4 linked regions of the Homo sapiens genome follow. The protein of the gene in region 3 interacts with the protein of the main gene of each other region in a biochemical or structural test. Each region holds a gene or a part of one and is shown on either strand. Other genes may lie near its edges.

Region 1 (7,777 bases), on a different chromosome or scaffold from region 3:
CAACAGAGCGAGCCTCCATCTCAAAAAAAAAAAAAAAAAAAAATGCTGTGTTATGCTGGTGTAAGTCCTTTAACTGTAGAAAACAATGAAAACATTTTAGTCAGGTTACTTTTATACGCGATTAATGGTCACCTCAGAGTCACCCCATTCATCATGGCTTTAAGACAAAAAAAAATTTTGGGGCGTAACCACACAGTCTTCTAGTTCAACAAAATAAGAGAAATCCAAACATATATAATGACCATTGAAATGGCTAATACAAGATGCTTAAAGAACCACTCTAAAAAAATCGCTGGATTAAAAATGAAAAAAATGGTTAGTCATGAACTAGAGAGGGACAAAATGAACTAAGTTTAAACATCGACAAAACAACATGTTTTCACCAAAATAGGCAAAAATTTAGACAAGCCGAAATATGCAGTTTAAATATAATGAACCCTACAGATTCTGTAGGGTTAACCTCCCTAGCAGAGGCCTCAGTAACTCACACCTCAATTAGAATAGTGTCTAATGATGTTACTATAACACTGGCTCAATCAGAAAAAAACTGCTTCCAAGTGGGAGAGCTGGAGTGTGACTGGGCAGCATAAATTAGGTTAATTCTCGCTCCTTAATTTGCGGGGAGAAAGAAAAACTGAAGGGGAATACAGAAAAAGAATTCACACACAATCGCTCGACTAAAATGTAGCTTAAGAAAGTGAAGCAGAGGTTTTTAAAAGTAAGATTTGCTGCTTCCTAGTAGAGGGAGAATTGCTTCAAACAGCAAAGCTATCATAAAAGATCAATCATTCATGTAAAACTTATTCCAAAATATTTCAAAGTGACTTTCTCGGCACAAATTTTCATTAAGTCTGAAAAACAGATTTGCAGTTTGGTTTTTTCTAAACTCAAGATTTACAATGAAGGCAGTGACCTAAACAGAAACATACACTCCCACTTCAAAAATAAAAAAAACGAAGATGCAATACTTCTTTAAAACTCGCCCAAAAACCTGGAAAGCAAAGAAAAAGCCACTTCTATTAATAGAGTCACAAAATGTTATAACGACTTTTATCAAAAGAAGCTTTTAGTTTTAATTCCAACAACTTAAACCTACATAATTCACCATCGTCTTTAGACCTAAAGCTACTCCGAATTACAAATGCTTGGTCCATCTCTATTACATTTGTTCTGTAACAAACCCATTTAAGTAAACAAAATCATGACAGCATTATGGAAGAAACACTAATTTTAAAAACCGTATTTTTAAATGTTAATCATTTTACAGTTTGGAATATTATGTACTAATCATATCAGAACTTTCCAATATAGAGAGAGTAAGTCCTTAGCATTAAAAAAAAGTTACATTTTAGAACTTCCTAGATTTCAACTGAAATATATATTATCTAGTCTCTGCAGGGTATGGCAAAAGTAATTTATGAAATCCACCATAAAAATTATTCAAATGCCTTGTTCTAAATCTAATTACGAAATTACGCATTTTTTTTTTTTTGATACTAAATGGTTTTTGCCAGCAAAAAGGAGTGAACCTACTTCTTAAAACACCCGAGTAACCAAGCTGCTACTAAGACTAGAAGGATGCTAATTCTGGCAAAAGTCAAAGGTTACTAACAAAAATTAGCTAAGATTATATGTTTGCAGAAAGTCAATTCAGGGTAATTCCGCTATTATCCTGTTGTGTTTATTATTCCTAAATAACTGGCAATTCCACCTTAAACTACGGTGCAAAAACTAAATGCATTAAGAAACTAATTGGGAAATAAATGTGTTTTTTTAAATAAAAACAAACGTACTTAGGTTTTTGAAGGGAAACAGCTATCAATCTTCAACAGGGCTTTTTAAAGCCTCTGCACCAGCAAATAAACCTTTCAGGTTAACTAAACACACTTGTGTCTTTGAAAATCTAGTTTGAGAAATCCTAACAGCAGTTTGGGACAAGTGATGGAGCCACCGCCCTCCACCCTACACCAATTTCACTGTCAGTACATGCAGTGCTAACAGTAAGATCAGCTGTGTCTTTTATTAGGAAGCATGTTTTATTGGGGGCAAGGAGGGGTTCAGTTAGGTGCTAAGAATGTGTCCTGCATACCGCTGTCACTCTCAGTACTCAAAAAGTAAACATATCAAAGCCAGAAGCGTAAACTGGCATGACAAGACTAGGAAGAGAAAGTAGGGGACAAAGACAAAACAGAAATTGGCTGGAGAAAATAAATTTAGACAAACAATTTACAACTTTCACTTAGACCCTAAGGCAACACATTCCAGCCGACCCAACGCGCTCAGCCGGGGCGACCGTGAAACTACTGAGAACAACAAAGAGGAGCGGCGGCCGCGGCAGGAGTCCCGTCCGAGTTTAACTTGATTCTCCCACGAGCTGCAAGCGGAGCTGGGGGCCCGAGGGACGCGAGGCACCGCCGCCCGGCATTCAGCCGGCCCGCCCGGCCCGGCTCGTCAGGCCGCCGCGGTCGCCCTCCCAGAGGATTCCGCGCGCTCCCAGCCGCCGCCGCCGCCGCCGCCGTCGTCGGGAGCCCGCCCCGGGGCGGGGAAGCCACAGGCGGGGTGCGCGGGCCCGGCCGGGGGAAGGGGAGGGGACATGGCGCGGTTACCTGGGCTCGGGCGGTGGCGAGGGGAGTCCGCTCTCCCGCGCTGCTGGTCCGCGGACGCACCGGGCCCGTAGCTTTCCCCGGCGGCCCGGAGAGCTCCTCGGCCCCCGCCCCGAGGCGTCCCGGCCAGGCCGCCCCTCCTCAGCGCCGCGCCGCTGCCCGCGCGGGCCGGACCGCCTCGAGCTCCCGGGCCGCCCTGCGGCGGGGGGCCTCTCTCGCTGGGCGCCTGGCTCCCCTCACCCGCTCCCACCCCCTGGGCGGCCGCGGAGCCTAGGGGAGAGCAGGAAGGGCCTCCCGAGGAGAGCGGGAAGGCGCGAACGCAGGCTCCGCCACCCAAACCGCTCCGTTACCGCAGCGGCGACGACGACCAGGGCCGTGTTGTTGCTGCCAACTTGTCGAGAAGCCACTGAGCATGCGCGCGCGGGGACCACATCCGGGTAATTTCAGGGTTTGGCCCTTTTCCCCCGCAGCTTTCCTTTCTCCCGGCTGCCCCCGCCTCCCGCTCCGAGTGACGGGGAGGGTCGCTCTGCGCAGGCGCCTACAGGGCAGCGCCAGCCGGCGGGCGGCTCTGAATCTGGACCTGGGCCTGGGCCTCAGCGCGGGCGGAGGCGAAGGCCTGTTTGAGGGAGTGGTCGCCGGGGAAATTGGCATCTCGTTGCAAAAAAGTATCCAAGGAGCGCGGGAGAGCTCGGCGTAGAGTGGGCGTCCAGTAAGTGTTTATAAATAGCTATTAGCCCGGCCTTTGTTGTTTTTTTGTTTTGTTCTGTGTTGAGGACCTGCGTAGGCACAAAAATTGGCCTTCAACAGCCAGTCGACAGCTCTGGGGAGAAGGTGGCTAGGTTGTAGGAGTTCACTTCGGGAAGAAACAGACGCTGGCGGCACCTTCCTTCTCTTTCTGGCAGCCCCGAATCACGAGCCCCAGAGGTGTTTACACTCGAGAGACGCACAGGACAGTCAAGGAATCACATATTGAAGAGCCTTGCCAGGCGTTGCAAGTGTGAGTGGATTTTGTTGGAAGAGATGTAGGCGCACTCTCGGAGCTGGAGGCGAACTTCGAATCCTACGACACACCTGTTAACTAGGTTACCTGTTTGTTTGGTGGGGGAAGGCATAGGCTCTGCTTTTGACTTTATGCCTCTTTTATTTCACATTTTTTACAAGACGCATGCATTTCTTTTTCATTTAAAACGCATTAATGATTTATTTTCACCAACCAGGAACTACTTTTAGTCCCTCCAAAACCAATGATTAGCCAGTTCTAAAGTCATTTCTTAGGTCACGTCGCCCAGAAAATCTCTACACCCACCGTACGCCTTCGCCACTCATACTCAGTGCTTCATTCTATCCTCCACATCACCGCCTGGGCCATTCCCTCTTTGACCAGAAAGCCCCTAAAGCTCCAAACTGGTGTTCTCTTACCCCTGGGGTTTATGGAGACCAGTTTTAAGGGAATTCATTTCCACATCTTCCATTGCTATATATTCTATTTTCTAAACTTGCCCAGCTTGAGAAAGGAGCTGAGGACACAGCATCCCCTTTCAAAACTGTCCTCCCACCTTACAGAAGAAAGTCAAAATTCTCACCCACTACTAAGGTGCATGGGATCAATGCAGAACCTCCCCAGCAATCCAAAAGGGACAATTCAAAAATCGGTATCTATGCTGAGAAAGTAAATGACCTTAGTGAATGGATATTAAATTATTTTTCAAGTCAGATAGTTTTCAAATCTTTTCTGTCAACAAAACTGAAGGAAGATCTGTCAGCTGATAGATTACAAAACATGATTTGGTAACAGATCAATATGTGAATCTTAGGTAATATACCTCAGAAGAAGTTTTTAAGAAATTGAGACATTGTTATAACTAAACTTCTTCTATTCCGTCTGTATTAGTTACCTATTGCTGTATAACAATCTCACCACAAATATAGAAGCCTAAAACAACAAACATTTATGATCTTACAGATTCTCTGAGTCAGGATTCCAGGCATGGCTTAGCTGGGTCCTCTACAAAGTGAGGCTGGAACAAAGGATCTGCTTCCAAGTTCATGTGGTTGTTGGCACCATTCAGTTCCTTGCAGGCTACAGGACTGAGGGCCTTAGTCCTTTGCAGGCTGTTGGCTGGAGACCCCCTCTGTTCCTTGCCATGTGGTGCTCTCCATAGGGAAGCTAACAATATGGCAGCTTGCCTCTTCGAAGCCAGCAACGGGAAGAGTCTCAGCAAGACACTGGTTTCAATCTTATGTAACATCATCACATACACAGTATCACTCATACTCTGTCACCTTTGCCATACATTGCTGGCCAGAAGCAAATCACAGGCGCCACCTACATTGAAGGGGAAGGAAACACACAAAAGCTTGAACACCAGGAGGTGGGAATCATATGGGGCCTCTTTAGAGTCTACCACACCATGTATTTATTTATGCAAATGATATTCCCTGTAAGCTCAACCTCTTCTCAGAATTTCCCTTCAGGTTCCCTTCACCTTTTTACTTAAGGAAACCCAACTTTGCCCTGGGACACTGCTCCTCCTTCCACCTCTCAAGTAGTGGCAACTGTGTTTTCTTTCTTTTGTTTTTTTTTTTTTTTCATTTTTAAAATAGATCAGTTTTATTCTGCTAGTTCCATAAAAACAATGTAAACGCAAGCGTTCTGTACATCTTGCTGGTGAATTCACATAACGTTTAGTTTCCTGATCCTTGACCTCCTCGTCTTCTCCAGTTATTTTCTGTTTGGACTACTGGCCACAGGAGTGGAGTGGGATTGGGGCTTAGGAGAGACCAATGTGGCCTTTTGGTATGACTTGTTTTATTGCTTGCCCTCTCAGCACACTCCTGTTACTCCTAACACAAAGGTTGAGATTTAAGCCCTTAAACCTGTAGGTTTCACCGTCAGCTTTTTCTTTTTTTTCTTTTTTTTTGGCATAGGCATTACTAGGGACGTGAATGGGAGACTGGTATAGAAAGTGGTGAGGAGCCGAAGCCAACAAATTGCTTTAAACACAAGATGAAAATGCTCTGTTCTGTCCTCACGAAGAATCACCTAATACTGGTGTGAGGCATCTCACTTAGCTGTAGAAAAGTCCTTGGAATTAGATCTCAGATAGTTCCAGCTTTAAGACAGTAAAACCTTTTGGCAATGGGCTAATTGCCTTAAAGGAAAGAAGAGTTCTTACTTGAAAGACCTTGCAGGTGGAGAAATTGTCCTACAAAGATTCTTGGAAATGTTAGTGGAGATAACTGACATGGGTAGCTGTGGGACAACCAGGAACTGTCAACAGCCCGATCTCAGCAAAACCAGAACAGCCAGTTAATAGTTCTTCAGTTCTCTGATGGTCACAAATGTAATTTTATTTTATTTAGCCTTGTGGAGGTTCTGCAACAAATGTAATTTTAAAGGAATTGGGAGCCAGAAAGATAAATGCAACTCCTTCAACTATGTGACAGGGCAGACTGGTTAATCTGGGTTCCCAGAGTGTGGAGCAAGTGCCCTGTATCAGAGAACAGCCCAGGGGGAACTTGCATGATGCCGAACCCCACAGGACAGAACTACTTCCGGCAACTGTGTTTTCAACCTTCAGCTTCTTAGTGCCTGGAGGTGAGATAGGTTTCCTTCTTGCTTCTCAACATTGCTTCCAGGTCATCCCCCTCCTCCTCTAAACCGGCAGCTTTAAATCTTGCTGTCCGATACCTCTATCGCTGACCTCACCCCGCTTCATCTCTGCACAATTTGCTCCTGACATTCACTCCAATGCCACTTCTGTCCTAGTGGTAGGTGGTTATAAGATCTTCCCAGTACCCTGGCCTCTCAGTTCCTTTTCTTCTTCTCAAGGATCTTCTTCATTGCTTCAATTTTATGATCTTACAGTTTCTCTGGGTCAGGAGTCCAGGCGTTGCTTAGCTGGGTCCTCTACAAAGTGAGGCTGGGATAGCGGATCTGCTTCCAAGCTCATGTGGTTGTTGGCAGCATTCAGTTCCTTGCAGGCCTCAGGACTGATAGCCTCAGTCCTTCCTGGCTGTTGGCTGGAGACTCCCACTGTTCACCATTAACCTCAGGTAGACCCTTAGTGCTGTTCAGCAATTCTCTTATACTTCCCTGATCCACTCTTCTGGATTTTATACCTTCTCTGTCCTCTAACTTACACATCCTCCCCTTGATCATTCTAGATTTTGTACCTTCTCTAACTTCAAACTTGCACATATCCTAACTCAGCCACTTCCTCCCATGGTCATAATCACCGTAGCCTTATCAAACTCTGCAACTTCTTCATTATCTCAGTTTCAAACATCTCACACCCTGATCACTACCTCAGTTTTCCAGATCACTCCCTATAGTACTCTAACTGCAACAATTCTTGAACCCTCATATCTGCTGTCACCCAGCCTCAACCCCCAGCCAATCACAATCACTCTTACACATGCCCTCAGCCCCCTTGCCTTTTTTTCCCTTTGTTGTGCTTGCTTGGCAAAGCCACAACCCTGATTCAAGCTGGCACCCATGCATCTGAATGTGGCGAGAGAAGAACACAATCACACTGACTACCTTCACTTTAATTTCATCACCATGAACCTCAGATAGACCCTTAATGCTGTCCAGCAATTCTACTTCCCGCCTCCATTCTTCTGGATTTTGTACGTTCTCTGTCCTCTAAGTTGCATGTCCTCTCCTCAATCATTCTCAATTAATAGCCTTGTTTAGAAAATTGAAGCAATGAGAGAAAAAATTCCACAGAATCTCAGCATCACCCACACCCACATACCAGCCTCTACTTTGCCTTCCCCACCCTCACATGGTTGAATTGCCGTGCTCCTAGCTAAAGGAGTATTGTCACCAAGACATAGATTCCAGTACTATCTTGCCTAATCAAGATCCTCACTGTCACTCCAGCAATTATCCGCCTATTCTGTTTTATCAGTATTTCTCTACTGGGTCATTCTGATAAGCTTACAAGCAGCTGTGATTTTTCCAATCCTACAGATTCTTCTCTTTGACCTATTTCTACTGTCAGCTATCACCTATTTCTCTACTCCCTTTACAACAAAACTTCTAAAAGAGTTTTCTATACTTTGTCTGCAGTTCTTCTCCCATTCTGCAACAGCAGAATACATCCCATACAATACCATTTATACAAAGTTCAAAAACATGTCAAGCATGATACGTATGTTAAGACTCC
Region 2 (7,024 bases), on a different chromosome or scaffold from region 3:
AGACATGATAACTATTTCCAAATACTGAGAGGGCAGGCTTGTGAAAAAGGAATCAGACAGGTTTAGATGGCCCCAAGCCCCAGTGAGGACAAGGCATAGAAGCTGTAGGGTGTGGGTCTCCTGGAGAATCTGCCCAGCATGCAAGGACCCCTGTGCCCAGCCTTCTGCATGAGCAACACTCTCCAGCCCAGCTCACCAGGCCGGGAGCAGGAGCCTGACGAGAACTGGGCCAGAGGCCTTCCCTGAGAAATTGAAATTGGCTTTCTTTTGCTCAGTCTGTCTTTCCACAGCCTGTACCACAAGCCTGAGAGGTACAAGTAGTTATCTTCTGCCCATCATTTCAGCTGAGCAGCAGAGAAAGCCAGTCTGTGCCCAGTGCTCTGGGTCCCAGCTCCCAGGTATTTGCAGGCTTAGCCATATCCCTGGCCAAAGTTTCCATGAGATAGCCTCTTCTCCCCTTGAGGCACTGGCTGCCACACTTGCTGTTACTTGCAGCCAAGAATCAAAGTGACTCGCTCCATCATTTCAAACACTCATGTTCAGCCAATACAGCAACACTCAAGGGGCAATGGCTTAAGAGAACCAGGAGCGGAACTCTCCCGGGCTACCCTGGCAGCAGCCTGAAAAAGTAGGCAACCTTCCTGATAAAGCATCTCTGAGTACTGCCTCTGAAGGGAAGAGACAGCCAGCTCCCCTGTCACCTTTCTCCCTAGCTTCTGAAAAGTCAGGCTCCAAGAGCAAGAAGGGCCAGGAACTCACCGCCCGTCATGCTAGGAAAACCACTGTCTTTGAAAAGCCCAAGTTTCTCACCACAGTTCCAAATGGTACCTGAGAACGCTTCCATTTGCCCATGTCTGGAACTGTGTGGATCTCCTTTTTTGGAATGATGAAGTTCTGAGTGGCTGGAGGGGCCTCCTCTGAAGAATCTTGACAAAAAAAAATGAAAAAACAAACAGATAAATAGAATCCTCCCCTACAACACACACACTCCCTTTCACCTTTTTTTTTTTTCTTGAGACGGAGTTTTGCTCTTGTTGCCCAGGCTGGAGTCCAGTGACACGATCTTGGCTCAATGCAACCTCCACCTCCAGGGTTCAAGCGATTCTCCTGCCTCAGTCTCCTGAGTAGCTGAGATTACAGGCACGTGCCACCACACCCAGCTAATTTTTTTTTTTTTCTTTGAGACAGAGTCTCGCTCTGTCGCCCAGGCTGGAGTGCAGTGGCGCGATCTCAGCTCACTGCAACCTCTGCCTCCCGGGTTCAAGCGATTCTCCTGCCTCAGTGTTCTGAGTAGCTGGGATTACAGACGTATGTCACCATGCCTAGCTAATTTTTGCATTTTTAGTAGAGACGGGGTTTCACCATGTTGGCCAGGCTGATCGCAAACTCCTGACCTCAGGTGATCCACCCGCCTTGGCCTCCAAAGTGTTGGGATTACAGGTATGAGCCAAAGCGCCCGGCCTCTCTCTCACTTTTAAACCAGGACTCCAACACCTGAGCCTTAGAATAAACCAGACACATACTTCCAGGACAGAGTAAGGGCTTGTTAAGCCAAACCCACAGCCTCCTGCCCTCCCTCACTCTGGGGAGGAAAGAGAAGGGCAATACTGACAATCCCTTCAATAACCATGCCCTCCCTTCCCTCTCCCCCCCAGAGCAGAACCGTTAGAAAAATAAAACCAAGTTGATGTTTCAGACATACACAGGCAATTCACAGAAGAAAAAAAAACAGGTCAGGTGCGGTGGCTCACGCCTGTAATCCCAGCACTTTGGGAGGCCAAGGCAGGCAGATCACAAGGTAAGGAGATCGAGACCATCCTGGCTAACATGGTGAAATCCCATCTCTACTAAAAAAGTACAAAAAAATTAGCCAGGCGTGGTGGCGGGCGCCTGCGGTCCCAGCTACTTGGGAGGCTGAGGCAGAAGAATGGCGTGAACCTGGGAGGCGGAGCTTGTGGTGAGCCGAGATTGCACCACTGCACTCCAACCCAGGCAACAGAGCGAGACTTCGTCTCAAAAAAAAAAAAAAAACCTAATTGCAGTAAACATTTGGAATAAATTGCCAACCTCCTGAATAAGCACGGACACGTAAATTATATGTGATTTCTCTTTCTGGATAAGGTTGGCAAATTAAAAACATCTGGCTAGGTGTGGTGGCTCATACCTAATCCCAGCAATTTGGGAGGCCAAGGCAGGCAGATCACTTGAGGCCAGGGGTTCAAGACCAGGCTGGCCAACTTGGCAAAACGCCATCTTTACAAAAAAAATTTAAAAATTAGCTGGGTGTGGTTGCATACCTGTAGTCCCAGCTACTTGGGAGGCTGAAGCAGGAGGATCACCTGAGTCCAGGAGGTGGGGGTTGCAGTGAGCTGAGATCATACCACTGCACTCCAGCCTGGACAACAGAACGAGACTCTGTCTCAATAAAAACAAAACAAGATTCCAGGAAGAGGAAACAAGAATTCTCCCGCTCTGTGGGTGGGAAGGACCTCCTAAGGGGACAATCTTTTGGAATAAAAAACTGCATATACACAATGAGTCAACAGGTCTACTTACAGGAATCTATCTTTCAGATGTGCTCACGGAAACACAAAGGTGTTTAATGCATCAAAAAAAAAAAAAAAAGCTGGGCATAGTGGCTCACACCTGTAATCTCAGCACTTTGGGAGCCCCAGGTGGGAGGATCACTTGAGTCCAGGAGTTTGACACCAACCTGGGCAACACAGCGAGACCCCATCTCTACTTTAAAAAAAAAAAAATTTTAGGCGGGGCGCGGTGGCTCATGCCTACAATCCCAGCACTTTGGGAGGCCAAAGTGGGTGGATCACACCTGAGGTCAGGAGTTGGAGATGCGCCTGACCAACATAGTGAAACCCCATTTCTACTAAAAATATAAAATTATTCAGGTGTGGTGGCGCATGCCTATAATCCCAGCTACTTGGGAGGCTGAGGAAGGAGAATTGCTTGAACCAGGAGGCAGAGGTTGCAGTGAGCCAAGATCGTGCCATCGCACTCCAGCCTAGGCAACAAGAGTGAAACTCTGACTCAAATAAAAAAATTTTTTATTAATTAGAAACAACCCAAATAGGCTGGGCGTGGTGGCTCACACCTGTAATCCCAGCACTTTGGGAGGCCAAGACAGGCAGATCACGAGATCAGGAGTTCGAAACCAGCCTGGCCAACAAGGTGAAACCCCATCTCTACTAAAAATACAAAAATTAGCCAAGTGTGGTGGCGCACACCTGTAATCCTAGCTACTCAGGAGGCTGAGGCAGGAGAATTGCCTGAACCCAGGAGGCAGAGGTTACAGTGAGCTGAGATCGTGCCATTGCGCTCCAGCTCTGGTTGACAGAGCAAGACTCCATCTCGGGGGAAAAAAAAAAAAAAGAAACAACTCAAATATCAGTTGATAAGACAATGGGTAAATAATGATATGCCCAGGTCCGGCATGGTGACTCACACCTGTAATCCCAGAACTTTGGGAGGCTGAGGTAGGTGGATCATTTGAGGTCAGGAGTTCCAGACCAGGCCTGGGAAACATATTGAAACCCCATCTCTACTAAAAAATACAAAAATTAGCCTGACATGACGGCACACACCTGTAATCCCAGCTACTTGGGAGGCTGAAGCAGGAGAATCGCTTGAACTGGGGAGGCAGAGCTTGCAGTGAGCTGGACCGTTCCACTGCACTCCAGCCTGGGTGACAGAGTGAGACTGTCTTAAAAAAAAAAAGAGGCTGGGTGTGGTGGCTCACACCTGTAATCCCAACACTTTGGGAATCCGAGGCGGGTGGATCACTTGAGGCCAGGAGTTCAAGACCAGCCTGGCCAACATAGCGAAATTCCACCTCTACTAAAAATACAAAAAATTAGCCAGGCATGGTGGCGCACACCTGTAATCCCAGCTACTCGGGAGGCTGAGGCAGAAGAACCGCTTGAACCCAGGAGGCAGAGGTTGCAGTGAGCCAAGATCACGCCACTGCACTCCAGCCTGGGCAACACAGCAAGACTCCGTCTCAAATTTAAAAAAGAGAAAAAAAAGATAGGCCCACATAATAAAAATTTTCATAGCTTATAAAATGAATAAAATCTAGGCCAGGCACAGTGCCTCCCGCCTATAATCCCAAAACTTCGGGAGGCCGAGGCAGGCAGATTGCTTGAGTCCAGGAGTTTGAAACCAGCCTGGACCACATGGCCAAACCCCATCTCTACAAAAAATACAAAAATTAGCCAGGTGTAGTGGTGCACACCTGTAGTCCTAGCTATTCGGGGGCTGAGGCGGGAGGATCACTTGAGCCCAGGAGGCTGAGGCTGAAGTGAGCTGCACTCCAGCCTGGGTGACAGAGCAAGACCCTGTCTTGAAAACAAAAAAAAATTAGAAACAACCCAAATATCAGTTGATAAGATGATGTGTAATTAATTATATGCCCACATAATGGAAATTTTCATAACTTGTAGAAAGAAGAAAATCTAGACCAGGCACAGTGGCTAACACTTGTAATCCCAGCACTTTGGGAGGCCCAGGCGGCAGGATCGCTTGAGCCCAGGAATTCAAGACCAGCCCAGGCAACACAGGGAGACCCCCATCTCTACAAACAATTTAAAAATTAGCCAGGTGAAGTGGCTCATGTCCGTAATCCCAGCACTTTGGTAGGCAGAGGTGGGCAGATCACCTGGGCTCAGGAGTTCAAGACCAGCCTGGTCAACATGGCGAAACCCTGTCTCTACTAAAAATAACAAAAATTAGCCGGGTGTGGCCGGGCACAGTGGCTCACGCCTGTAATCCCAGCACTTTGGGAGGCCGAGGCGGGCGGATCACAAGGTCAGGAGATCGAGACCATCCTGGCTAACACGGTGAAACCCCGTCTCTACTAAAAATACAAAAAATTAGCCGGGCATGGTGGCGGGTGCTTTAGTCCCAGCTACTTGGGAGGCTGAGGCAGGAGAATGGCGAGAACATGGAACTCGGAGCTTGCAGTGAGCCAAGATCGTGCCACTGCACTCCAGCCTGGTCAACAGAGCGAGACTCCGTCTCAAAAAAAAAAAAAAAAAAAAGAAACCCTGTCTCTACTAAAAATACAAAAAAAATTAGCTGGGCGAGGTGACGCATGCCTGTAATCCCAGCTACTTGGGAGGCTGAGGTGAGAGAATGGCGTGAACCCAGGAGGCAGAGCTTGCAGTGAGCCGAGATCGCGCCACTGCACTCCAGCCTGGGCAACAGAGCGAGACTCCGCCTCAAATAAAAAATAAATTAGTCAGGCGTGGTGGCGAGTGCCTGTAATCCCAGCTACTCAGGAGGCTGAGGCAGGCAGAATCGCTTGAACCCAGGAGGCAGAGGTTGCAGTGAGCCGAGGTCGCGCCACTGCACTCCAGACCAGGCGACAGAGCGAGACTCGTCTCAAAAAAAAAAAATTAGCCGGGCATGGTAGCGCACACCTGTAGTCCCAGCTACTCGCGAAGCTGAGGCAGAAGAATCACTTGAACCCAGGAGGCAGTTGGCCAGGCGCGGTGGCTCAGGCCTGTAATCGCAGCACTTTGGGAGACGGAGGCTGGTGGATCACCTGAGGTCAGGAGTTTGAGACCAAGCCTGGCCAACATGGTGAAGCCCCATATCTACTAAAAATACAAAAAAATTAGCCAGGCGTGGTGGTGGGCACCTGTAATCCCAGCTACTCGGGAGGCTGAGGCAGGAGAATCACTTGAACCCAGGAGGCAGAGGTTACAGTGAGCCAAGATCACGCCACTGTACTCCAGCCTGGGCAACAAGAGTGAAACTCCATCTCAAAAAAAAAAAAAATGCAAACTCTCCCTAAAGTGGAAGAGTAAAGGACTATCATCAATCACTCACAACCTGGTATAAATTTGTCCCCCTGCCTTCCTCCTAAAACCTGGCTGACATCAGCTACATGGAGAAAAAGGGACAGGGACCTAAGAAGTTTCTGGAACATATAACATTTGGAGAAATAGAGCCTGTCTGGAGAGGAACTGAAGAAAAGAAAAGTGCCAGGGGACTTGGAGACCTAAGGAGAAGGATAGAGAACCTGAGTTTAGAGAAAGACAAATCTCTGCCTAACTCAAACCAAGGCCCCAGAAAGAGATCAGAAGCTCTCTTCCTCCTCCCACCTGTCCTGCAAGCTCTGTTCCCAGAACCCAAAACTGCTATTAGTAAATTGGCACTTCAACTAAGATGCCAAATAAAAAGCTTTGTAGGTCAGACTAGTAACCCAACCACATTGCTTTTATGGGAAAATGTGTCCCACATTCCAAATAATCAACTTGGAAATAATCTTTGGGAACATACAGCCCTTTTATATGTGTGAGATCACCATTCTCTGCAAAGGGACAGCTCTCCTCGGAGGTTGCACTGAGCCAAGATCATGCTACTGCACTCCAGCCTGGGTGACAGAGTGAGACTCTGTCTCAAAAAATAAAAATAAAAAAAGGGATGGCACTCCTGACATTATTTAACCGGGATATTTCACAGGAAGAGAGCCTTCAGGCCAGTCCATGTTTGGGAAAAGGCTACCTTACCAGGAAGCACTATAACAAATTACTGATGAAACACACACAAGTTGCCAGAACACACAATCCCAAATCAAAGAAACAAGCCTTCAAAGGCAGGATGGTGATAAATGAGGTCACGCCCACAGTCTCTCCAGCCTCAGGTTATAGAGACATAGGTTCCAAGGGACAGTGGATTCCCAACAACCTCACAGTATAAAATCAACATTCAGAATTTTAGAAATGTTCCTTCCTAAGCCCCCCAACAAAGACTATAATATATAGCATTATCATTGGCCATTTGAAACTCGTCTACATGTTCAACCTGTACAACTTTGAAACTTTGAAAAAGATAAGGGCAATCAGCATTTACTGATCGCCTACTATGTCCCATGCTTTGCACACATCTTATAAAACACATACTACAATTCTATGAAGAAAGTATAGTAGCCTATAGTTATTTTAAGAAATAACTGAGGCTTTTTCTCAGGGAAAAAAAAAGAAATTTTAAAAAAGAGAGAAGT
Region 3 (7,177 bases):
ATGACATAAAACCATAAAGTTTATGACTAGTCCCAAAATCTGTATTGCAAGTCCTACAAACTATATGAAAATGTATCTAGCCCAATCTCAATTCGCGGCTACTTTTGGTAATACCATTATCTCATGTAAATCTTCCCCCCAAAAATAAAGTTCATTAAACTTATTATATTTAACTATAAACAAAATAACAAGAAATATTTGTGAAATTAAATTATTTTTGTAACCTTAAAAATCACAGGAAAGGTGAAAACGCCTTCCTACGTTAACGTTTTAACTAAGTTTAAAGTTAACTAACTTTTCACTAACGTATTCTCCTCACCAAATTCAAACATGCAAGACTAAATTTCAAGTGAGAGAAATCTGAAAAACATTTCGAACCCCCAAATCCATGTTCTCAGATCCTGTCCGCTTACGCCTTCCTGATACTATACACTGATTAACCCTTCCCATCCACTTGGAAACCCAGTTTTAAAACATATCACACTAGTGCTCTTTTCAAATGGAATTGTCTAACTTTCATCCTTTCTGTAAAGAACTCTCGTATCATACACCTGGCATTCTTTTACAAAGCAATTGAATTAAACCAAATATAAGACTCATAATGTAAGCATTTGTTAAAAGAAATGAGACACATTAGTGGATTAATATCAAAGCACACGTGTTTTGCTTTTAAAGTATCTAATACAAAGCCTCTCTGATATAAGCCGTATTTAACTTTGCAAGGGTTTTCTAGAAGCAAAATAAAACATTCTCTACATTAAGTTCTTTAACTTTTTCATCTACAGGCTCGTCTCCAGTGCTTCCATTGAATTCTCCACTAAGATTAAACTGTTCTTATTTTTATACCTCCTGAAACCCAGGAAGACAGAGGGCTCCCCAATGACAATGAAGAAAGGGAAGGAGGAAGCAACTACTTCTTTTACATAAAACAAAACAAAAAAAAATCTAAGCTAAATTGCAAATATGGGCAGCTGATAAGAGATGTATATCTCCAATCGCACAGGACTCTTTGGCCTGGTACTGACACACACTGTCTTGGGGGAAGGGGCCAGGGAGGTGCCTAGGAAGAGGAAAGCAGCTGGATATCAGCAGCCCAGCAGGGGCAGAGGAGTTAATCTCTTTGGATACCCAACTGCAGGAAGTCATTACATCATAGGCCTTTCCACACCTCTCTCCCTACCACGTGTCCCGTGCCCCAAGAGGATGATAAGGAACGGTAGAGAGTCTCTCTTCGGGTTCATTTACAGGTAGAAGCCATTACGGCCCGGCCCAGCCCCCAAACCTCCTCCCAAACGCCAGAGTGAATGAAGCGCAGGCCCCGCGTCCCCCACACCAGAGCCCTTCCCTCAAACAGTGCCTGAATCCAGGCCTCGGCGGGAGCAGCGGGTGCAGCCAGTCTGGATTGAGGTGGCCAGACCGGCCGGTTCGAGGCCCCAGAACATTTCAGAAGCAGCTAGTCAGAAGCAGGTTTACTGGAGCGACATCTCCGAGAAGAAAAGGTATCAATATAGGCAAGGAAAGGAAGCCGTCCAGGAAAAGGTTTGCAACCACTGCTTTTTCTAATCGGATCGATGTGCCTGTAGGTGTTAACACCCACAAGCTGAAACTTGGACCCGAAGGTTCTCATTCAGCTAGTGACGACGCAACATGCTCCTGCGACAGACTGGAAACCACACATCCAACCCCTCCTCCAGACACTGCGTCCCAAACACCCCCACACCTCTCACTCCAGCCACAGCGCCCGCACCAGACCCCCACTACGGTAAACTCTACTCCAAAGTTGGCTGCGGACCTACCTCCTCGGTGCTGTCCGGAGAATCCAGCAAATGTACTCCTGTCCGTTCGCCCTTCCCTCGCCGGCGTCCCCTGCCCCCTCTCCTCACCTGGCCATGCCCCAAGCTTCTGGGGAGCCTCATTCACCCCTCCGAGACCGTCCCCAGGTGCCCCGACTCCGGGGATCAAAGATAACCCCCAAAGCCTCGCAGCGGAGGCTCCCCCTGCCAACCCCTTGCCCTGGAGCCCGCAAGCGCACTCCGACGAATCCGAGACGCGTCTCGCGCTGCGCAGGAGGCCCGGCGGGTCCTGCTGCCAGCCCGGGGTGGGTACGCACCTTCCAGCCGGCAGAGCTGTTGCTGTCGCCCTTATCCTTGAAGTAGGGCACGCAACGCACCATCCACTCGTAGATCTGGGACAGAGTGAGCCGTTTGTCCGGGGAGCTCTCGATGGCGCGGGTGATCAGGTCCGCGTAGGACAGGTTTCCCCAGGCGTTCCGCCGCGACGAACATTTCCTCGGCTGCCCGGAGCCCCCAGCCGCCCCCGGCTGCGGCGGTGGCAGCGGTTGCTGAGGCTGCAGCAGCGCCTGTGTACCCCCGCTCAGCCCGCCCGCCGCGGTGGCTGGCCCAGACCCGGGGTCTTGCCCTCCGGGTGCCAGCACCCGGGCCGAGTCCTCAAGGAGCAGCCCGGAGCCCAGCGTGCCGCTCCCGCCGCCGCCGCCGATCGCCATGGCCGAGCCGGCCCGTCCCCCGCCGTCCTCGTCGTCTTCATCGTCCTCCTCCTCGGGGATCATGGAGTCGGCGGCCGTCTCCCCCGAGGGCTTGGCAGGGCTCGCTTGGAGCTCCGGCCTTTGCAGGGGCCACGTACAGGATCGCGGACGGCTCTGGGGCTCGAACTCCGGGTCCAGCTCCACTTCGAGCGGAGAGAGCGGGGCCGGGGAAGCCGGTGCCTCTGCCATCTTCGCCGCCCGCCCGCCCGCGGCTGGGGCTCTCGCGCTCTCCTCTCGCGCCGGGGCGGGGTGCAGCGGGGGAGGGACGTGGACGCCGCGAAGGCTCCGGCTCCCGGGCGCCGCCGCCGCCGCCTGGGGAAGCACCAAAGAAGAGAGAAGGAGAGTTGGTTATCCCGGGCCGGAGCCCCGTCCTCGGCGAGTCCTCGCCCGCTGCCGCCACCTCCCAGTCCTGCCGCGCCCGCCTCCCAGGAACAGGAGGACCTGAAGACGTGCGGCCAGCGAACCTGGCGCAGCAGACACCGCCCCCCGGCCAGGCCGCGATGGAGCCGCGAGCGAATCGACGGCCTCGCGCGGGGCAGCCCCCTCCCCCCGCCGCCCAGCCGCAGGTCCCTCCCGGGCTAGGCGGCGGGGCGGGGAGAAGGGGGAGGGGCGCCCGGGGGAGGGGCGGCCGCGCCTTTAAAGCGGGCAGCGGCCGGAGCTGGCGCAGCCGAGCCGCGGTCAGAGCCCGAGCTCGGGTGTGCGTGCGTTTGTTTATGTTTCGCTCGGGCCCGCTCTAGTGCCTCCCGCGGCGCCGCCGCTCAAGTCTGTGCTGTCTTCGGCTCTTCTCCCCTTTCCTAGCCTGGCCGCCTCCGCGACCCCCCGTCACCCCCCACCCGGTCGAATGGCCCGAGCCCGGGGACTGCGCGGGCAGCTCCCTCTCCCCTCTTCGCCCGCGGGCCAGAGGGCGAACGGGGGTCTGGGCGCAGATGGGCCCTTGTCACTTCCAAAAAATAAAGGAAAGACAGAAAGAAGGGGGAGCAGCAGCCCAGCGGGTGTTCGCAGAGGTTCGAGCCCGGCGGGGACGGCCACTTCGGGGTTTTGTGTGGTTTGCATTCTCGCGGACGTCGTCCCCTCCGCCCCCTTCCCAGTCGGGATCCGGGGGAGGGAGCGAGTCGGAACATAAATCTTCCAACAGGTCGGGAAGCGCCAAGTCTCCCGGGCTGCTAGAAAACCCGGACCAGCACGTTCATCACCTCCTTGCTCCCGCTGCTGCCATCTTGACAGTTTCCCCCTTCCCGAGTCCTTTAAAAACACTAGCGGGCGAGAAGGGGGGCGCGCACACCGCGGCTCAGGGAGGGGAAAGGGAAGCGCCCGGCCCAGCTCGGAAGCAGATCCGGAGTCACCGGGAAGGCGGCCGCCCGCTGCACGGCTCCGGCGCCTACCTCGCTTCCTTCCCTTCAGGGACGCGGCGGGACGACGCACGATCCCGCGCGGGCCCGGGGCACGGCGAGGAGGGGGCGCGCAACCTCGGCGAAGGAGAAGCGCTCGGGCCGTCGCCGCAGCCCGCCCGAGGAACCGCCTGTCAGCTCGCGCGCCGCCACCTTCCACATTCCTCCTCCTCCCTTCCACGAGCAGGGCGGCCGCGGCAGCAGCACAAAGTTATAGACACACGCAGGGCGCCTCAACCTAGGCTGACGGCGGGCGGGTCCCCGCCCAGGGGGAGGGCTGGGCGGCGGGCTGGGCGGCGGGCCGGGCGCGCGGCGGGCGTGCGTGTGTGAGTGCGCGTGTGTGAGCTCGCGCGCGCCTGCGCGGCCCGGCTCCGCGGGGCTGCGGGCGTGGGTGTCCGGGCGCGCGCCGTGGGCCGGGACTCGGCGGGCTCCCGCTGCTGTCCCCGCTGGGCTCCTCCTCCCTCCCGAGAGTCTCAACGACAACAAAGCGCGGCGCTGGCCCGGGAGAGGAGGGAGAAGGGGGGAGAAGGGAGGAGAGGAGGAAGAAGTGGGGAGAGGAGGGAGAAGGGGGAGCGGCAGGAGCGCACAGCCCCCGACGCTCCAAGGAGCGCAGCGGCGTGGCCTCCCTGACTCCGGGCAGGGCGCCTGGTACCAGGGGGTCCCTGGCCTGCGCGTCCGCCCGCCGGGCTCTGGGCCAGCCCCGGTGTCCGGTTCCCTGTTAGAACGCGACACCAGGTAACACCCGAGATAAGATGCTGGCCGCAAGATGGGCAGGGTTATCGCGGTGTGGAAATACTGAACGGCGAAGATGTTGGTGCCTGCACAACTTCGATAAGCTGATGCTCACAGATTCGATCAGGCACCAAAAGGTTTGCACTGAGTCTCTCACCTCGGACGGTGGACCACAGTCGTGTTTCACTTTTCATGGGTTTCATGGCAAACGGGGGAGAGGTGTAACTAACTCCGGAAGAAATGCAAATTTACCCCCGTCCTACATTCAAGAGCAGATTCCGAACAACTGAGAAGGGGAAATAATTTTAATCTAATTTGTAAATGACGACAAAACCGCTACGTGGGCATTTTTGACTTTTAAAAAAAGACGTATCCTTTAGGTTAAACGAAAAACATCTGCACAAGTCCTTATTCTACGATCCGTGCCCCAAATCGTTTATTTGTACTCTACGAATGCACCACACGCGACATGCACACCAAAAGTCTACACACTAGTTCATAAATATATTTTTTAAAAAATCCTTGTAAGTCACCGGAGATAGCTCAGAGTGTAGAAGCGGGCTCCTCAACGACCCCATACACAAAAAGGTCCAGCCCAGCGTACGCAAGAGCCAGCCCGCCCAGCCGCCTCCGGGCTCCGGGCTTTGCGCAGCGCCCGTCACTCAAGTGACGCGCGGCCCCGCCCCTGCACCAAGCTAGTTCGACGCGTACAAACAGATGATGTCATCGTATCCACACGCGCGTGACCCCGGAGCTCTCCGCCGCGTCGCCATTCGCTGCGCCGCTTACTCGTCAAGGCACGCCGCGCGCTGACTGGCCGCGGCCACCAGTCTCCAGGCCCCAGACGCCCCTCTCCGCCCCCCCGCCCCCGCCCCCCAGCAAATAATAAACAATCGAGTAAAATTCTAAGGAAGGAGAGAGAGGAGAGGGAAAAAGGGAGAGGGCGCACTAGAAACCAATCCTTCGCGCGCTGGCGGTGGGAGGGTTCAAGGGGGGACGCGAGAGGACAGCGGACGGGAGGAAGGCAGCCGACTTGGGGCGGTGGGTCTGCCAGCGAAGAGGAGGCGTCGGGGGAGGAAAGTTGCAGCGCACTCGACTGGGCGCGCCTGGCGGGGTAGGGGGCGCTAGGGCCCGGAGCGGCGGGGCTGGGGGCTCGGGGGCGGGGCGCGACCCGCCGAGGGGGCGGGGACTGAATGGCGCCGGCCGACACGTGCGGGAGGAGGGCGGGCGCGCGCCACACACACTGGGCCGGGGCGCGCGGCCCTGGTAGCCGCGCGCGCTTGTTTACCAGCGCACGTGGGTGTTATTTTTAAATGGAATGTGGCGCTGGCTGCGCTGCCGAGTGGCGGGCGCGTGGGGCCGCCCGCGCTGGCGGAGGGACGCGGCGGGGCCCGCGGCGCGGCCTCTCCGGGCGCTGCTCGCGAGACAGCTAGGCTGTCCCCACTGCGCGCCGCTGGCATAGCCGGCGGCCCGGGCCGGGGAACCTGATTGAGAGTTTCGCGCGCTGCCCGAGCCGCGGCGGAGACGACGGTTTCCCGCCGCGGAACGCCGCCGTCTTTGCGCCCAGCTCGGCTCCCTCATTCTCACATTCAGGGAACAAAGCCTCCTGTTTGTGCTTCGCCCAGGAGGCCGCGCCAGTCCGCGGCCACGGTTTCTAGAGCAGATCTCACAAGCTGCACACACTCACTGGCACACATACTTTGGCTGCGAGGTGGACCCTCAGCACCCTACGTACTCTGTGTCCTCGCTTCCTTGTACCGAATGCCCGCAGTCCACATGTGCCTGTCTCGTGGGCATGCGGCTCTGCCCACATATAAAAGCGTTTCTGCTATTTCGGGTTGCCCTTGGAAGGGGGAGTCTGGGGAAGGGGGCTCTGACTGCTTACTGCGGTGGCTCCTCCTCACGAGGCACCTCTCCTCTCCTTGTAGGCCTGTCCCACTGAGAAGCCCCAGGTTTGCATTGGGTTTACAGCCTGGGAGTGTGGATGGTGATGTATGACCACAACTCGGCTTCAAGTGCCAGTGCTTGGGGTGCGGGTTGGGTATGGTGGTGGTTAAAAGCTGGTATTCAGCTTTGCACGAAGAACTGGAAGGCTAGATCACCCAGGGCCGCGCATCGTGATGCAGCATAAAATTCCAAGAATTTTCGTTGCTGGCTTTAAATACTTGTAACACTGTAGAAGAAATCCACGCGTTTTCTTCTCTAAATCTAAGCAATCTTTTGTCATTAGAGTGCAGACCTGCAAAAGTAGAAAGAATGTGTTTACAGTGGCTGGGCTCTCGGCCATTAGATTTTCACTATAAACATGTTGAGTGTCCATTTACAGAACACATATCCCAGGGGCATTCCAAAAGAGTGGAGGAGTCAAAGATTCAGTGGATTAACAGAGCCTTGTGAGCTTCACTTCACAGTGAGGAATGGGGGGCAGGCACATGATAAAGCCATTTCCCTCAAAGAGCTTACTTGAGGGTATAAGACATGTTACTTGGGGGTATAAAACATGTTAAAAAGAAAT
Region 4 (6,496 bases), on a different chromosome or scaffold from region 3:
AAATTATGGATCCAGTGTACTCCCTTTTTTTTTTTACAAAACTGGTAATATTATTATTACATAACACTCTTGCCTATCATAGTATTAATAATCTTTTCTGTCCTTTGTAGGTATGTGGACAGGATGAGGAGATTGAAGCATGCTCCATTTTGCTACCTTGAATAATTTATCTGCAAACAATTCCTCTTGTTCTTGGGAGAATGAATGTTCCTTTGAGGGATGCTGCAGTGAAGGATGATCCAAATATGAGATGTTTAGTGTGCATTCTGGACAGGCATTACTTCTCAGAGTATTAGGTTCTTCTTTTCATGAAGATGAGGAAACTTAAAATCATCTAAAATCCATGCTCTCTGCTCATGCTTTAATTTTTTAACAATTTGTATTAGTTTTTCTTTTCTAACAAGGAAAAGTTTGAAAGAGCAACTGAAAGAAGATCCTTCTAAAGCTATACCTTGGAGGAACACAATTTGATTAGGTTTAAGGAAAGTCAGTATTTATAGGCTTGTTTTCATGAAAAATAAGCTTTATTGAATCCCTTGAGGGGAAAAGCATAATTTTACAGCTTAGGTTTCTTCCTTCCCCAGTGATACTAGTTTCTCAAATTTTATCCTGAAATAAAACCGTGGGCCGATTGAGAAGCTAGATGGGCAGATGCGTGACAGATCACCATTGTCCCTGGTTGTTACATTAGAAAAGAAAGTTGTAACAGAAGGATTCTTTTTGTCAGCCTCTCTCCTAAAGATTCTATAGAAAGGTTCAGGAGTATTTTGATTGTTCTCTACAATAAAACCTAGGTTGTTCTCTTAAAAAAAATTTCAGGTGTTTTCTCTAAACATTCTCTAACATTTTAGGCTTTCTCAGCTTAGGATGAGCTTCTCAGGTGGTTGGATATTAGGACTGTACGTTATAGCTGACCACAGATTCTAATCTTGAAAAACTGCTTCATGAGACTGTAGAAGATAGCATTCTCTTAAGAACTTTCCAAAACTAAATGACTACTTACTATCCCCTGGGCTTATGAATTCTGTAAAGAATTAGCAGCTTTAGGTAGAATATGGTCAACTTTTTCTGAAGGTCCTTATTTAGAAACAAAGGAATACCCAAAGGTCTGAGTTGGCTGCCTGTCTAGATTACTTTTTCTTTTTTTTTTTTAAAGAGGCATCTTGTTCACTTGTTCATCAATTAATGCTCTTGAATCATAATTTTTATTTCAATGTCCATTTCATAAGAAACCTATTCACTGAACATTAAAACAGAAGGCTGTAAGAATGCAACAGACTGAGTGAAAAAAATACCCTTCCAAATAGATTTCACACGTCAATCTCCATCAGAGAAACATTTCCCATCTTAATGCCTCCCTTTAGAAGTAAATAATAATAATTTGAGATAAACTACACTTCTTCCACACCTAGATATACAGGGTTTTAATGCTAAAAAAAAATTGTATATTTTTCATGAGAATTTCTCTAACCCCGAATTTTGTAAATAAACCAGTTTAAACATCATTAGTTTGTTATCTATCCTCTATGTGTTACTTCATCTAGATATATACAAAAATTTGGAATGAATAAATGTTGGTTGATAAAAATATTACATAGCTGCTAATGGGATTTTTTAAGTGCAGCAAATTAATACTTAAAAGTTTGGTTCTGCTTATGGCAAGTTTTGTGTTTAAAAGAATTAAGTGTATATATATATATCTTCATATCCAGTCCAAAGAGGTCAGAAGAATATTTACAAAATAAATATGTAGGGAATTTTAGAATTTCATTGATTCAGATGAAGTGATAATTCCTTAATTAGCATAAATCTTTAGATTGTATCAACTATTGTATGCCGTATAAATTACTCTGATCAGTATTATTTTTTTACTGGTTAGAGTAAGAAATTACTCTTAAAGACAAAATCACTAAAAGACAGTTGTGGTTTTGATGAATTGCTATATAATACTTACTAAAGTTAGTTATGGGTATAGGCCTTAACTACAATTTACTCAACAATATATAAACTAAAAATGTCTTCTCCACTTCCTCAAAAAATTTAATTATTTTATTCAAATTTTGAAACTTTATTACAGCAAAATTCTAATTCAAAGTCCTTGTCATTTAATTTTAGTTTTCCAATACTTTCAAAGAAAACTTGGCTATAATACTCCTCTTGGTAAAGTTTCTTACGCAACTTTATGTGTTGCAAGAATACTATAAAATTTTAACTAACTAGAGTAGGATAAAATGCCAGTGCATATAACATCTGTTGCATTTATAATACTTCAATGTAATGTGCAGACAATGAAGTTAAGGTTTGCTGAAGATCCATTGTTCCGTGAGGCTTAATTCCTTTTCCAAAATTATAATTGGTATATGTGGTTCAAGGTAAAGTAGTTGAAAACTTCACAATTATACTTATTAAATATATTTCTGATTAAAAGTAGAATGTGCCTGTGAAAATCTGAAATCAATAAAAGAAATGTTAGCTATTTTAGAATGCCAAAATTAATATTTAAAAACAAACTAAGAATAAAGGGAACACCGAGACTTGTCTTAAAGAAGCTGTTTGTCATTCTTTTTTTTTTTAGATTACAACACACATACAATAAGTGAATTTTATCAAAATACAGCACATTTCTTCTACTATATCCATAAAAATCAATTCCTATGTAAATAGTACTGAAAATCAACTAAAATGAGTTAAAATTTACAAAGAGTTGTTAAAGGGTTTCAATCAAAATTATTAAAACTATACAGTACAATAACCAATTGATAACATCTTGAAAGAAGTGCAATATTTGAGTTCACATATTTTTAAAAGTGCTGCCTACTTACTCTGACTAGCAAGAATGGAAAGTGAGTCCAACTCACTTTTGCAAAAATAATGTTGGTTGGTGTTTTAAGCTAGTCTTATAAAAGTCTTAATTAAAATCAAGGTTGATAAACAAAGCATAACAGATTAAAAATTCCCAAATTGCATTTCTTAGTAAATAAAAATGAAGTGCAATAACCAAATATTGCTCTAATGAAAGGTTCCAGACTAGCCTCAACTAAACAGTTATTGGTCTTCTATGGCACTTTTTTCTGGTCCAAATAACCATGCATTAATCCTTACCATTACATGTTACTCAAATTTTATTTGATTACATAGAACAAAAACAAATAAAATTAATGGTCTGGATAAACAAAATTAATAAACCTCTATCATCAAATATTTGTTACAGTAACTAGGAACAAAGAAAGGCAGTTGGTGGTAAAACACTATTACACTGATACACATAGAAACCCTTTAAAGACTCTGGAAGTGTTGAGTTCACATTTAATGTTACCTGTAGAAACAGCCCTTTATTTGAACACCTTTACACACTGGCAGGCCTCAAGGACCCATCCCTTTGCTCTATAACTCTCCACAGCAATTCTCTATCACTGTGCCAGTTTCACAAAGCTTGCTTTGGTTTCCTAGCTCCAAGTGTACTGTTTCCTTTTACTTTACCAAGGCAATGCAAGGCCAAACAAAAATCAAAGAGGCTTTCCTAAACCTTCGTAACATTTTGTGTTACAGGCAACACAATCTTAAAACTGGCCATTTTTGTTTCATTTGCTGCTTAAAATAAAAATTATAAATTAGATTTAAATGGAGCACTAATTATAAAACAGATTGCAAGTACCACCATTTGAAAAAAAAAAAAAAATCAGTGGATTTCCATAACACAGAAAATGCATGGACATGCATCTACAGTAGAGTTAAAAATTTCCTGTGACTAAAAAATTAAAAACTGAATCACCAGTAGCAAATGTATAGTCAATGGCTATGACAAGAACAGATCCTGCCGAGCTCATAAATGCAATTATTGTCTTTTTTGCTTTATAAAAAAGACATTACATATTTTATTGCATTATTCTCCTAATAAAAACATACTACCACGTAGCTCTCCCCATCCCCATTCTTTGCTTCCAGATTTTTATAGAAAATAACTGTTTTAGTCTGGCCTTGGAAAGTGAACCCACCAGCACCACCTTCACCTACTCACTCTTCAATTCAATATGCACATAGCAAAAGCCAACACTTCAAATCTCTTGCCCACATCAAAAAAAGTAGTTTCAGGAGAAAAACATTAATACCAGTTGAATAAAAATAAGGGCATAAAAGCTATGAGAGAGATAGCTCTGCCATCTGTCTCTGGGCTAAAATCAAGGCTAACTATTGCCTTGCACACAGTTCAGTCATGTATATGAAATCCAAAAATAAACCTACAATCTATACAAAAACAACACAGGTTTGTTTTTGTAGCCTTGATTGCTATGTTTAAAAACCTAACAAGTTTTATATGGTATGAATTCAACAGTCTCCTTTATATTCTGTACAGTGGTTCTTTCCCTCTAACCACAAGTTCCATTATTTCATTAATGTACAAATTTGAACATAATTTTTTGAGTTCTTCTTTATATATAAAAATAGTCAAAATATTAATTTCCCCTGTAAGTATCTTCCAATAAATCTTGCTGTCTTCCCCGCTTTTTTTGTCCACAGTGCTTATGAGGAAACTTCTCGTACAATGATGAGTTCAACTGTATTCTGGAAAGTTTTTAGCAAGGACACTGCTTGTCCATGTTCAATATTTATAAAACTGTAGCCATTAGCCTAGAAGAGGAAAAATGCTTTTAGGAAAAACATTTTATAGTTATTTATTTGCATTTCTGCCAAGTAGTTCACAAACTTGGAAGAAAATAAGAATCACTTTGGCAACTTAAAATAACATACAGATTCACAGGCCCTACCCAAACCAAGGAATAAAGTCTCTGAAGATGGGGTCTAAAAATGTGTATTTTGTCCAACTTCTCAGCCAATTCTTATGTAGCAGCCCAATGTTAGAAATCACTTACTTAAGAAATAATGTCAGACATGGTGTCGTATAATGCTAATGTGTATCTGAGGTGACCAAACTGTAGCGTAGCAGGGGGCAAGGGCTACTCTTCCCATTGTCTTGGAGCCATCACATCAAGACCACCATATTTCTTACAATTAAGCTTAATATTTACTGAGGTTCTACTGTGTACCAAACACACAATTCTAAGGGTGTAATATGAATTAGATCCTTTGATTCTCATAATGCTCAAAAAAGATTCTTTCACTATCTTATTTTAGAGAAGAGAAAGCCCAGGCATGGAGAGGCAAAGTAACTTGCTCAGTCACAAATTGAAACCCAAATGGTTCAGAAAAATAAATGTGTATAACTGTATGAGTGAGTGTGACTGTGTGTGTGTGTGTATGTGTGTGTGTGTGTGTGTGTGTGTGTGTGTGTGTAGAGGGAGGGAGGGAGAAAAAGAGAAGAAAGAGGAGAATAAATGATAAAGACAATGTAGCAAATTATGAACGACTGGTGACCAATTGATGTAATACTGGTGTTTGTTGTAGTATTTTTGTGGCTTTTTTCTAAGCTTAAAATTATTCAAAAAAAATTTTTTTTAATTAGTTTTATTTTTAGAAAGTGTTGGGACCAGAATTTAAACTCAGGCAGTCTGGCTTTCAGAATCTGTACTTTCAGCTATTAGACATTAATGTCTCTCTCTCCCTTTTTTTTTGGTTTGAGGATTATTTTTTAAGTTCTTTAGTTCTCAGCTAAGAACGGTGACAGTAGGGGTAGAAAATGAGAGCTATACTTGTGTCCTAGGTTTGTCTTCCTTCTAAGACTGTAAGTGTTTAGGTAAAATGAGTAGCTGAATGAACAAAGAAAAGGAGGGGACAGGAAAAAATGAGTTTCGCAGATTTAAAATTTTTCTTCTCCATTTCTGAAAGGACAATAGCCCACATCCAAGAAGTGGTACTCTAATCCCCCTCAAATTAGTAAAAATTAACATTCCTGAGCTTAAACAAAATCCTATGATGTATCAAACTTTTTTTTTTTTTTTTTTTGAGACAGAGTCTCGCTCTGTCGCCCAGGCTGGAGTACAGTGGCGCGATCTCGGCTCGCTGCAAGTGCCGCCTCCCGGGTTCACGCCATTCTCCTGCCTCAGCCTCCCACCCACAATTTTCAAAGTTAAAGTGAAAACATTTTAAACTGTGAAAACATTAGAGTGTTATAAAATGAAAAAAAAAAAGATTTATTTTAATTACCTGAATAATTTTATCACCTGGCTGCAGTAATTTTGATGCTGGTCCTTCAGGTTGTACCCTTGTTACAAATATACCCTTTAACAACAAAAAAAATTATTTAACTAAAAACAGTATGTATAAATAACAGAGTACCAAGGAGCAATTTTTCCTCCACACCATGCAAATATTTGAATCATGGTACAAGTTTTCTCCCTGACTTCTCTGAGTAATACTGTAACAAACTAGTTATTTTTACCTCTAGTAATTCTGACTTTAGTGATTTCTCTTGAGAGTAATAAAATTACTTTTATAGGTGTGTGAAAAAGCAATAAGAAAGTTAAAAATCATTTCATTATATCATAAACATTCATAGTTTTTGGTTAAATTGTTTTAACTTGAACTGATCAAATTACAA

Evidence for each region.
Region 1: the proteins of FOXO3 (region 3) and SMAD4 form a complex in vitro, tested with the Homo sapiens proteins (one study listed by IntAct).
Region 2: of the proteins of FOXO3 (region 3) and PTPA, one has a biochemical effect on the other in vitro, tested with the Homo sapiens proteins (one study listed by BioGRID).
Region 4: the proteins of FOXO3 (region 3) and ERBIN interact in a test that uses a peptide from one of them, tested with the Homo sapiens proteins (one study listed by BioGRID).

What each region holds. Positions count from the first base shown.
Region 1 is NC_000018.10:51,025,453-51,033,229, reverse strand, and holds the start of SMAD4 (mothers against decapentaplegic homolog 4), read right to left. Parts: upstream 3,018-7,777; 5' UTR 2,607-3,017; intron 1-2,606. UniProt on the Homo sapiens protein: In muscle physiology, plays a central role in the balance between atrophy and hypertrophy. When recruited by MSTN, promotes atrophy response via phosphorylated SMAD2/4.
Region 2 is NC_000009.12:129,114,415-129,121,438, reverse strand, and holds part of PTPA (serine/threonine-protein phosphatase 2A activator), read right to left. Parts: intron 927-7,024; coding exon 829-926; intron 1-828. UniProt on the Homo sapiens protein: PPIases accelerate the folding of proteins. It catalyzes the cis-trans isomerization of proline imidic peptide bonds in oligopeptides. Acts as a regulatory subunit for serine/threonine-protein phosphatase 2A (PP2A).
Region 3 is NC_000006.12:108,556,763-108,563,939, reverse strand, and holds the start of FOXO3 (forkhead box protein O3), read right to left. Parts: upstream 3,024-7,177; 5' UTR 2,732-3,023; coding exon 2,111-2,731; exon of another isoform or gene 1,917-2,110; coding exon of another isoform or gene 1,797-1,916; intron 1-1,796. UniProt on the Homo sapiens protein: Transcriptional activator that recognizes and binds to the DNA sequence 5'-[AG]TAAA[TC]A-3' and regulates different processes, such as apoptosis and autophagy.
Region 4 is NC_000005.10:66,076,556-66,083,051, reverse strand, and holds the end of ERBIN (erbin), read right to left. Parts: intron 6,178-6,496; coding exon 6,103-6,177; intron 4,630-6,102; coding exon 4,522-4,629; 3' UTR 506-4,521; downstream 1-505. UniProt on the Homo sapiens protein: Acts as an adapter for the receptor ERBB2, in epithelia. By binding the unphosphorylated 'Tyr-1248' of receptor ERBB2, it may contribute to stabilize this unphosphorylated state.